Homo sapiens: one gene and its partner. The protein of the gene in region 2 interacts with the protein of the main gene of each other region in a biochemical or structural test. Each region holds a gene or a part of one and is shown on either strand. Other genes may lie near its edges.

Region 1 (5,186 bases), on a different chromosome or scaffold from region 2:
ATGCTAAATAAAAGAAGGCAGTCAAAAAGGACCACATATTGTATGATTCCATTTATGTGAAATATCCAGAATAGGTCAGTCTTCAGAGATAAAAAGTAGATTCGTGGTTTCCTAGGGCTGCAGAGAATGGGAGAGTTGAGGTGACAGCTAAGGGGTGCAGGGTTTCCTTTTGGGGTATTTAAAATGTTCTAAAATGGATTGTGGTGATGATTGCACAATTCTGTGACTATACTAAAAAAATCACTGAATTGTACACTTTAAGTAGATGGATTGTATGGTATTGTGAATTCTCAATAAAGCTATTAAAAAGAGAGAGAGAGAGACAAAGAAAAGAAGCCAGGAGTGAGGGTTTTGAATGTTCACAACACAAAGAAAGAATAAATGTTCCAGATGATGGATATGCTAATTACGCTGACTTGATCCGTACACACTGCATACATGTATCAAAATATCGCTCTGTATCCCATGACTGCATATAATTATTCCATGTCAACTAAAAATAAAAGGAAAAAAGTGTTTATATCCAAGACTCAACAGCTACAATAGCAATTGTCTCAAGATGTTTGTTTAGGATGGTGAAGGCGGGTGGAGAACATCTCTGGAACCCCAGAATCCAGTGGGAAAATTCACTCTCCGTGATGGAATTAAAATATGTTTAGAGACAGAAGCAAAGGAAAACAGCCTTACAACTAAAGCACGCATCACTGCGATCAGGGGTGCACAAAGAAGAGTTGGTACAAATGGCTCCCATCTCACAGAAACAAAAGGTTTGTAACTTGCCCCAGGATAGCTAAGAAATGCTTTCAAATCCTTATAGAAATGAGAGTCAAGGGAATACTGGTCCACAGTTCATGCATTATAAACTCCTTTGTTCAAACATCTAGTTATCATAGAGATGGACACTATGAAAAGAAGAAAACCATAAGACAATTCCAAGCAAGTGAGCTTCAGCACCATGCTCGAGTCCTCAGCAGAAAGGCAGGCATGGAGCCAGGGAGGAGGCAGGGATGAGCACTGGAAGAAGCAAGCAGGTAAGCTGGTAATGGGGGAAGGAATGGGTCCCTTTGAGCCTTAACTGCATTCCTCTATAAATTCCACACACAGACAGGATCCTTGTCTGTAAGGCATGAAGGCAACTAGAACTAATACTAAGCTCTGCATCCTCTTTGCTTATGTCATGTTTAAACACATGCATCATGCTCACATCAACCCCATGATCTAGGTACTGTCATTCCCATTTTATAAGTAAAGAAACCAAGGTATAAAGTTTAAGGGTCTTGTCAAGGTCATACAGCTATCAAGTGGCAGGGCCAGGATCAGGCTTAAGTCCCTGTTCAACCCATATGCAACATTGCTCTCAACCACGGAACACCTTGTCCTTAATAAGGGAGTCTCCCCCTCAAACCCTATTTGGCAGGTCACAGTGACATTTAATGCAAGATTAGTAAGAAAAGCAAGCTAGAATTAAAGCAACTGGAGTTTCTTATTCTGAGCACTGTCCTGCATGCCTATGGTCTGACACTGCCACATGTCTGAGTCAGCAAGAGGGGGTTGAGGAGATGACGACACTCAGGCGTCCTCACAAAAGCATGGCAGCTGCTGAGTTGAGAATTTCCCAACACAGCTGCTGTAGCTCAGTACCCTTAGAACTCAAGCTAGGCTGGGCCCATGAACCCAGTCTAAACATGAGTAATATAACAAAAGAAAAGTGACATTTCAAGTATCATGCATGGGCCACACAGACCCAAATTTCTTAAGGTGGCAAGAGTGGATAAAGAAAGAAACCAGGCTGGGTGTGGTGGCTCACACCTGTAATCCCAGCACTTTGGGAGGCCAAGGCAGGAGAATTGCTTGACAGCAGGAGTTCAAGACCAGCCTGGGCAACATAACAAGATCCCATCTCTACAAAAATTTTAAAAATTAGCCAGGCCTGGTGGCACATGCCTGTAGTCCTAGCTTCTCAGGAGGCTGAGGTGAGAGGATTGCTTTAGCCTAGGAGTTCAAGGCTGCAGTGAGCTATGATCATGCCACTGCATTCTAGCCTGGATGACAGAGAGAGATCCCATCTCAAAAAAAAAAATTGTTTTAAAGAAAAACCACTGTCTGTCTTCAAAGGGAAACCCCCTGAAGTGTGCTCACAGACCGACTTAAAAGGAAAATCCCTTTGGCTCTATTCCTTCCACTGCCCACTCCCTGTGGGTAGCAAGGAGGCCTCATACCCATTACAAGAAAGGGGCCGGGCTATGGCTGTAGCACCAGAAGCAAGACAAGGGGACAGCCTGCAGGACTCAGTGGCCTGAGGAAACGAGCAGCCGTGGCGTGCTTGAGAGCACTTACTCCTCCAGGACTTTCATCTTCTCTCCTTTCTTGAAAGACAAGTCGTCCGGGTGGATGCCATCATAGGGGTACAAGGCTACCACAATGTCTCCTTGTTCCTCTGGATCTAAAGATGAACACAAGAGAACACCTGTAAGAATCCATCAGCAGAAGCGTTTTAACAAACCTCATGGGGCACAAAGGATGAGAGGAAGCACTAAGAGGGGGCAACTGGAAGAAGGACATGTGCTTCCTGCCTAGTGGGCTCAGGGTCTGCACGGCCCACAGAGAGTACCTTGCTGTATACACTGTGTCCAGTATTTGTTCTTGCAAATCACTTAAAACTAAAACTATAAATACAACTCTATATTTAAGAAATTATACACCCATGTTCACAGCAGGATTATTCAAAATAGCCAAGATGTGGAAATAATGCAAACATCTATTGATGGAGGAATGGATAAACATCATGTAGCATTTTGGTTTTTCTCTTTTGAGACGGAGTCTCGCTCTTGTCGCCCAGACTGGAGTGCAATAGTGCAATCTCGGCTCACTGCAACCTCCACCTCCTGGGTTCAAGCTATTCTCCTGCCTCAGCCTCCCCAGTAGCTGGGATTACAGGCGCCCACCACCACGCCTGGCTAATTTTTTGTGTTTTTAGTAGAGACGGGGTTTCACCATGTTGACCAGGCTGGTCTCGAACTCCTGACCACAGGTGATCTACCTAACTTGGCCTCCCAAAGTGCTGGGATTACAGGTGTGAGCCACTGCACCCGGCCAGGGCATATACTTACAAGGAAATATTATTCACTATTAGAAGGAAATAAATTCTAACACTTTCTACAGCATGGATGAACCTTGAGGACATCAGGCTAAGTGAAATAATCCAAACACAAAAGGACAATTACTGTATGATTCCACTTCTAGGAGGTACCTAGAGTAGTGAAATTCATAAAGACAGAAAGAGCGGAGGTTGCCAGCGGCTGGGGGAGGAGGCAATGGGGACTTATTGTTTAATGGGTATGGAGTTTGAGAAGATGCATTCTGGAGATGGAGGGCGGTATTGGTTGTACAACAATGTGAATGTACCTAATGCTGCTGAAATGTATACTTAAAAATAGTTAAGAGGGTAAATTTTTATGTTATATATGTCCCACAATAAAAAAAAATAAAAACATTTAGGACAATCACTTTATAGAAGCTCTAATAGTAAAGAAAAAAAATTTTAACTATGTTGCTATGAAAACATACCTTTAGTTTGAAACCTCTGTCCAGGTAAAAGCTGAGATTCTGGAACCTACGAGAGAATATTTGTTAGAAAAAAAAATTCTGTTTAGCTTTTCTTACTCACATTCGTGTTGTATATATGATTTTTGTAACAGTAGCAGATGTTAGGATGGGCTCATTTATTAAGTCAGAAAGAACAGGAGCACAGAGGGAAAAACCTGTAGAGGTGCATCCTGCCCTGCTTGGCCAGTGACAGGGCTCTTTATCACTTGCTGTGGGTGGCAGGAAGGGAGCGAGGTTCTGGGCAGGTGCCAGGTGCTCACCTCATCCTAGCTCCTCCTCTTCTTTGGTGACAGAGCCCTAATATTATTTGGGGTGGCAGTTTGCCCAGCTCAATGAGTGTGCTTCCAAACTCTCTAGCCCCGGGCAGAGGGCAGAGGGAGTTTTGGTCCGCAGATCGGTTGTGCAGGGCTTTGCTGTCAGCTCCCCTTTTCCCTTGCCTCTTTCTCTCTCCCTAGAAACAAGTGAAGGCTGGAGTCTTCACATAGAAAGCAAACACCAGCGGCAGCAGGATGGAGACGGAAGAGGTGGGACCCTGGTGATTTCGTGGAGTTGCCGTCCCAGCCTGGGACTGCCCATCTGAGGCTTCCCCAATTGTATAAAATTGCATGGTCAGGGCTCTGTCCCTGGAGGCTGAGAGCAAGTCCCATCCCATCCAGGTTTTCTTGGGCTGACCCTGACTCCATCACAGGGACAGATGGCATCCCCTGTTATTTCAGTGGGGGGGTGAGTTATTGGGAAGGATTTGGTGGCACAGAAGACCACCTCAATTACCTTTAAAATCAAATTCTTTTCTTCACAGTGCCACATGAGGCTGTGTGAGGCCTCTGGGCCTCTTGTAAGATAGATGCTGTCAGAGGCCTATACCACAAGTCATGTAACTTTTCTGTCTCTCTTTGATTAAAGTGGCTTCACAGAATGGGACCAAAACAGTTTGTACTGAAATTTAAATTTCTGATGAAAGCCCATAAAATCTCCATTTCAGTGAGACAGGGAAAATTACTACATTGTAGTACCAGAAAAACCCATGGCTGCATACTATCCTTCAAATGTTTATGTCAGGAAGTTTTATGTTGATTTTTTAGTCATTCAGATTTGCATAATTTGGATATATGATCTATTTTATGTGATTTAGAGGAAATAACTAGAAGACTAGAAACTAATTACATCATTTTAAAAGCAGCAAGCTGATTTTTCAAATTTCAAAAAGCCCTTAACTTACAAACATTTTAATATGCTTTTTATAAGACCGAAACACATGTATGCCACACATATACTATTGCTCTAGATTTTTCCTTAAAATGGCTTTTTCTAGAATGTTGTTGAATTTGCATCAACCCTACCTCACCTTCTCATCAAATTCCCCTTTTAATCAATCCATAGCGTGCATTTTGTCATATCTGGCCAGGGCTGAGAGTGTTGGTTATGGCCATGGAATAAGGCCAGGCTAACTGGCTCATGAGTGGAGGGCATCTGTGACCACAGAAGGGGCAAAAAATGGTATACAGGAGGGAATTGAAAGACTTCAAGCGTGTTTACTACTTCTGCTTTCTAACTTGATTTTTAATCCCCTTTATTTTGAA
Region 2 (5,186 bases):
CACGCACACATATGCACGCATGCACACACACACATATGCACGCATGCACACACATATGCACGCACACACACATATGCACGCACACACGCACATGCACGCACACACACATATGCACGCACACAGTATGTGACCATCTTCCATGTCCCTGCCCACTAGGCATAATAGCCCTCACTCTGCCCTCAACCCCGCAAATCTCATCCTTATCAACCTCGGCTCTTTCCAGCATGTTTCTCCTGCCTTGGTGCTTCACTCTGAGACACAGGGAATGTTAGACACGCCCAGCCTCCAGCCTAGCGTATGATATTCTTAAAGTGCAGGCCGTAGTCTGGTACACCGTATTCAGCTGAGATGTTTGTGAAAGTGGAGGGGATAACACGCCTCACACAAAACTTACCGCAGTGGTTCTCAAAGCAGCATTCTGGAGCCATAGCATCAGCATCACCTGGGAACTTACTAGGAATGAAAATGACTGGATTCACCCCAGACCTACTGAAGCAGAAGCCCTGGGGGCTCAGAAATCTATTCTTTAAGCCTCCAGGTGATTCTTATGCTCATGGAAGTTTGAGAACCGCTGATCAATGCATTCAGTGACTCAGAAACAGAGTCCCGGACTCTACAGGTTTGTTGGTTGGTTGGTTGGTTGGTTGGTTGGTTAGTTTGTTTGTTTTTGTCACCCATATTCAACCAGCTGGACTCCACAGTATAGCAAGCCACTCCGATTATTCTTCTGCATGTTATATGTGATAAACCATCCACCTAGAGTAGGATTGGGGGCAGCATCTTAACATCTAACTACTTAGGACACCCACCCTGTTTACAGGCAGAAATAAAGGATTTTTAAAACAAAGCAAATCTGTGAAAGAACCAACTGAATTAAATCGAGAAGTCTAGGCAGAGAGGAGAGAGAGAAGGGGTCCGTGTACCTCATACGCTGTGCACCAGAATGGACCCTGCAGAACCTACCTGCTACCGGGGAAGGTGGTTCTGTTGGTAACCGGCTGGGGGTCACAGAGGTTCCTGGGAAATCAGAAAATGAGATAAATCTGTGCTCTGTCGCTGTGGGTCCTGAACAAATAACGAAACATCTCCGTGACTGAGTTTCCTCACCGGAAAAATGAGCCTAAAGTAGCTTACATCACTGGACTGTTGTGGATGTTAATAAGCATTTGAGCTGGGTGCAGTGCCTCATGCCTGTAATCCCAGCACTTTGGGAGGCTGAGGAGGGCAGATCACTTGAGGTCAGGAGTTCAAGCCCAGCCTGGCCAGTATGGTGAAACCCCGTCTCCACTAAAAATACAAAAATTAGCCAGGCGTGGTGGTGTGCACCTGTAATCCCAGCTGCTCGGGAGGCTGAGGCAGGAGAATCACTTGAACCTAGGAGGCAGAGGTTGCAGTGATCTGAGATCGCACCACTGCACTCCAGCCTGGGTGACGCAGTAAGACTCCATCTGAAAAAAAAAGGCTTAGCCAGGCGTGGTGGCTCACACCTGTAATCCCAGCACTTTGAGAGGCCGAGGCAGGCAGATCACCTGAGGTCAAGAGTTCAAGACCAGCCTGGCCAACATGGTGAAACCCTGTCTCTACGAAAAATACAAAAATTAGCTGGGCATGATGGCAGGTGCCTGTAATCCCATCTACTCAGGAGGCTGAGGCAGGAGAATCGCTTAAACCCAGGAGGTGGAGGTTGCAGTGAACTGAGATCACTCCACTGCACTCCAGCCTGGGTGACAAAGTGAGACTCCCCCCAAAAAAAAAAAAAAAAAAAAAAGCAGCAGCATTTGTAAAGCACACCTGGCACATTCTGGGCTATTAACAAGGAAATGCATGCAGCTCCCGTCCACCTTTTTCAACCTCAGTTCTATTTCTTCTGGATTCCTGTGTCCTACCCCTCACTGTGACCCTGGGGGCAAAACAGATTTTTCTACCAAAAACTAAATGATGTATTTTGTTTGATTTAATATGACATTGTTAAATGTACTGATCAGTGGCGTTGGGTATGTTCACATTGTGGTACAATATGTTGACCTCTAGAACTTATTTTTCTTGCAAAACTGAAATTCTGTGCCCATTAAACACTAATTCCTTCTCTCTCCTCTTTCTGGCCCTTAACAACCACCATTGTACTTTGTGTTTCTACAGTGTTGACATTAGATACCTCCTTTGACTAGAATCATACAGTAGTTGTCCTTTTGTGACTGACTTAGCATAATGTCCTCAAGGTATATCCATGTTGTAGTATGTGTCAGAATTTCCTTCTTTTTTAAGGCTGCATAATATTCCATTGCATGTATATAACCACATTATGAGGTATGCTGCTCTTTTTTGAAAGAAACCCCCTTTAAGAATGGTAGTCAAGTCCGACGCGGTGGCTCACGCCTGTAATCCCAGCACTTTGGGAGGCCGAGGCGGGCAGATCATGAGGTCAGTTCAAGACCAGCCTGACCAACATAGTGAAACCCCGTCTCTACTAAAAATACAAAAATTGGCCGGGCATGGTGGCAGGCACCTGTAATTCCAGCTACTCGAGAGGCTGAGGCAGCAGAATCGCTTGAACCCGGAAGGCGGAGGTTGCAGTGAGCTGAGATCGCGCCACTGCACTCCAGCCTGGGTGACAGAGTGAGACTTCGTCAAAAAAAAAAAAAAGAAACCTCCATTCTCCCAGCTGCCTGTAGCCCAGGGCTTCCTGCCCTCCCACTTCCTTCCCACCTCTGGCCCCGCCCCTGCAGCCCAGGGCTTCCTGCCCTCCCACTTCCTTCCCACCTACGGCCCCGCCCCTGCAGCCCAGGGCTTCCTGCCCTCCCACTTCCTTCCCACCTACGGCCCCGCCCCTGCAGCCCAGGGCTTCCTGCCCTCCCACTTCCTTCCCACCTACGGCCCCGCCCCTGCAGCCCAGGGCTTCCTGCCCTCCCACTTCCTTCCCACCTACGGCCCCGCCCCTGCAGCCCAGGGCTTCCTGCCCTCCCACTTCCTTCCCACCTACGGCCCCGCCCCTGCAGCCCAGGGCTTCCTGCCCTCCCACTTCCTTCCCACCTCTGGCGCCGCCCCTGCAGCCCAGGGCTTCCTGCCCTCCCACTTCTTTCCCACCTATGGCCGCGCCCCTACAGCCCAGGGCTTCCTGCCCTCCCACTTCCTTCCCACCTACGGCCCCGCCCCTGCAGCCCAGGGCTTCCTGCCCTCCCACTTCCTTCCCACCTACGGCCCCGCCCCTGCAGCCCAGGGCTTCCTGCCCTCCCACTTCCTTCCCACTTATGGCCCCTCCCTTGGAATGGCCATCAGGACCTATAAAGGCTGAGGAAGAAAGGTTTGGTCTGCACTACCCCTACCTGTGACCACAAGCTCCAGGGGGTCGCTGGGGGCTGACCACAGGTATGGGTCCCTGCTGGAGAAGCTGTAGCATCGGTAGGTTCCGCTGTGGGCGGCGGTCACCGTGATGATGGGAAAACTAGCCCTGTACCATCTCTCGGGATTCTTGTAGGGCGCAGGGTCCCCTTCCTTGTACAGAGCAAATTGGTCAAAGCCATACCGAGTCTGACACTGTAGGGTTACGTCCCCTCCTGACGACACCGCCGGGCCGGGCTGGGCTGAGAGCGAGGGTTTGGCAAAAACTCCTGGGAGAAAAAGAAAGTCTGATGTTGAAGGCAGGAGCCAGCATCTCAGCTGAGACTGGGGAGGTCCCCACACCTGCCTAAGAGCTGGGGAGCTTTTTGGCTGTATCCCTCCCAGAGAGCGCACTCCCCCACCCAAGCTCACAGAGAGGTCGAGTCACCCAGTGGTTGAGGAAGGAGGCTGTGCTCACGTCCTAGTGCTTGGGTGCAAATCCTAGTTCTGCCTTCAGGGGCCTGGTGGCCCTGGAGACAAATCTCCCTCTGTATCTGAGCCTCACTGCCTTGTTCTGTTAAAATGGGGATGACTGAATGAGACAGTACACAGTAATTTGCAGAGTGCCTGTTGCCTAGCAAGCGCTGGAGTAAGTAAATAGCTTAAGCTTATACTGTGCTGTAAGCTTGTATTGCCACATACAATTGTTACGTTGTAAATGTGGCTGACAGTGCTAGCTTCCGGGTGCCTTCCAAACTTATGATGTATATCAGTTCAGTGAATCCTCAGAGACCTATGGAGTCCTCACTCTTAATGTCCCTATTTTATAAATGAAACTAAGGCACATGGCATTAAATAATTTGTCCAACTCTAGGTAACAATACTGCAGTGTACAGCTGAAATTTGCTAAGAGGGTAGATTATAAGTATTCTCACACACAAAAAAGTTAACTGTGTCAGGTGATGTATGTTAATTAGCTTGCTAGTAGTAACTGTCTCACAGTGGATTCGTATATCAAAACATCAACTTGTACACCTTGGATATATTCCATTTTTGTTTTTCAATTATACCTCAACAAAGCTGGACATATTTTAATTTAAAAATAAATAAAAAACTTGTCCAAGATCATAAGTGGCAGAGTTGAAATCTGCACTCACAGAGTTTGATTCCAGGGTCTCCGCTCCTAAACACGAACCTACACTACTCTGATGTGAGGTTGTTGTCATAGACCGGTGTGGTGATGCATGCCTGCACACAGGAGTCAGAAAAACAAAGGTTGAGGCTGGGTGCGGCGGCTCACACCGGTCATCCCAGCACTTTGGGAGGCCAAGGTGGGAGGATCGCTTGAGCCCAGGAAGGCGAGGCTGCAGTGAGCTATGATCACTGTACACTAGCCTGGGTGACAGAGTGAGACCTTGTCTCAAAAAAAGACAGAGAGAGAAAGCAAAAGAAAGGAAGTAAGGAAGATAAAAATATAAGCTGCCTAATAATTATGGCATTCACTCAACAAGAAGAAAAAGAAAGAAAGAGGAAGGAAGGGAGGGAGGGAGGAAGGAAGGAAGGAAATATATAAGCTGCCTGATAACTGTAACATTCACTCAGCAATATTTTCTCTTAATTTTCACTTAAGCAACTATTATGTGTCTGTCTGTATTCTTTTTTTGTTGTTTCATTTGTTTTGTTTTGTTTTGTTTTGTTTTGAGACGGAGTCTCGCTCTGTCACCCAGGCTGGAGTGCAATGGCATATATATATATATATATATATATATATATATATATATATATATATATATATATATATATTTTTTTTTTTTTTTTTTTTTTTTTTTTTTTTGGGAAACAGAATCTCACTCTGTTGCCCAGGCTGG

The links.
Region 1: the proteins of GP6 (region 2) and LYN form a complex in vitro, tested with the Homo sapiens proteins (one study listed by BioGRID).

The regions. Positions count from the first base shown.
Region 1 is NC_000008.11:55,944,875-55,950,060, reverse strand, and holds part of LYN (tyrosine-protein kinase Lyn), read right to left. Parts: intron 3,614-5,186; coding exon 3,568-3,613; intron 2,444-3,567; coding exon 2,338-2,443; intron 1-2,337. UniProt on the Homo sapiens protein: Non-receptor tyrosine-protein kinase that transmits signals from cell surface receptors and plays an important role in the regulation of innate and adaptive immune responses, hematopoiesis, responses to growth factors and cytokines, integrin signaling, but also responses to DNA damage and genotoxic agents.
Region 2 is NC_000019.10:55,024,255-55,029,440, forward strand, and holds part of GP6 (platelet glycoprotein VI isoform 2 precursor), read right to left. Parts: intron 3,609-5,186; coding exon 3,324-3,608; intron 1,018-3,323; coding exon 964-1,017; intron 1-963.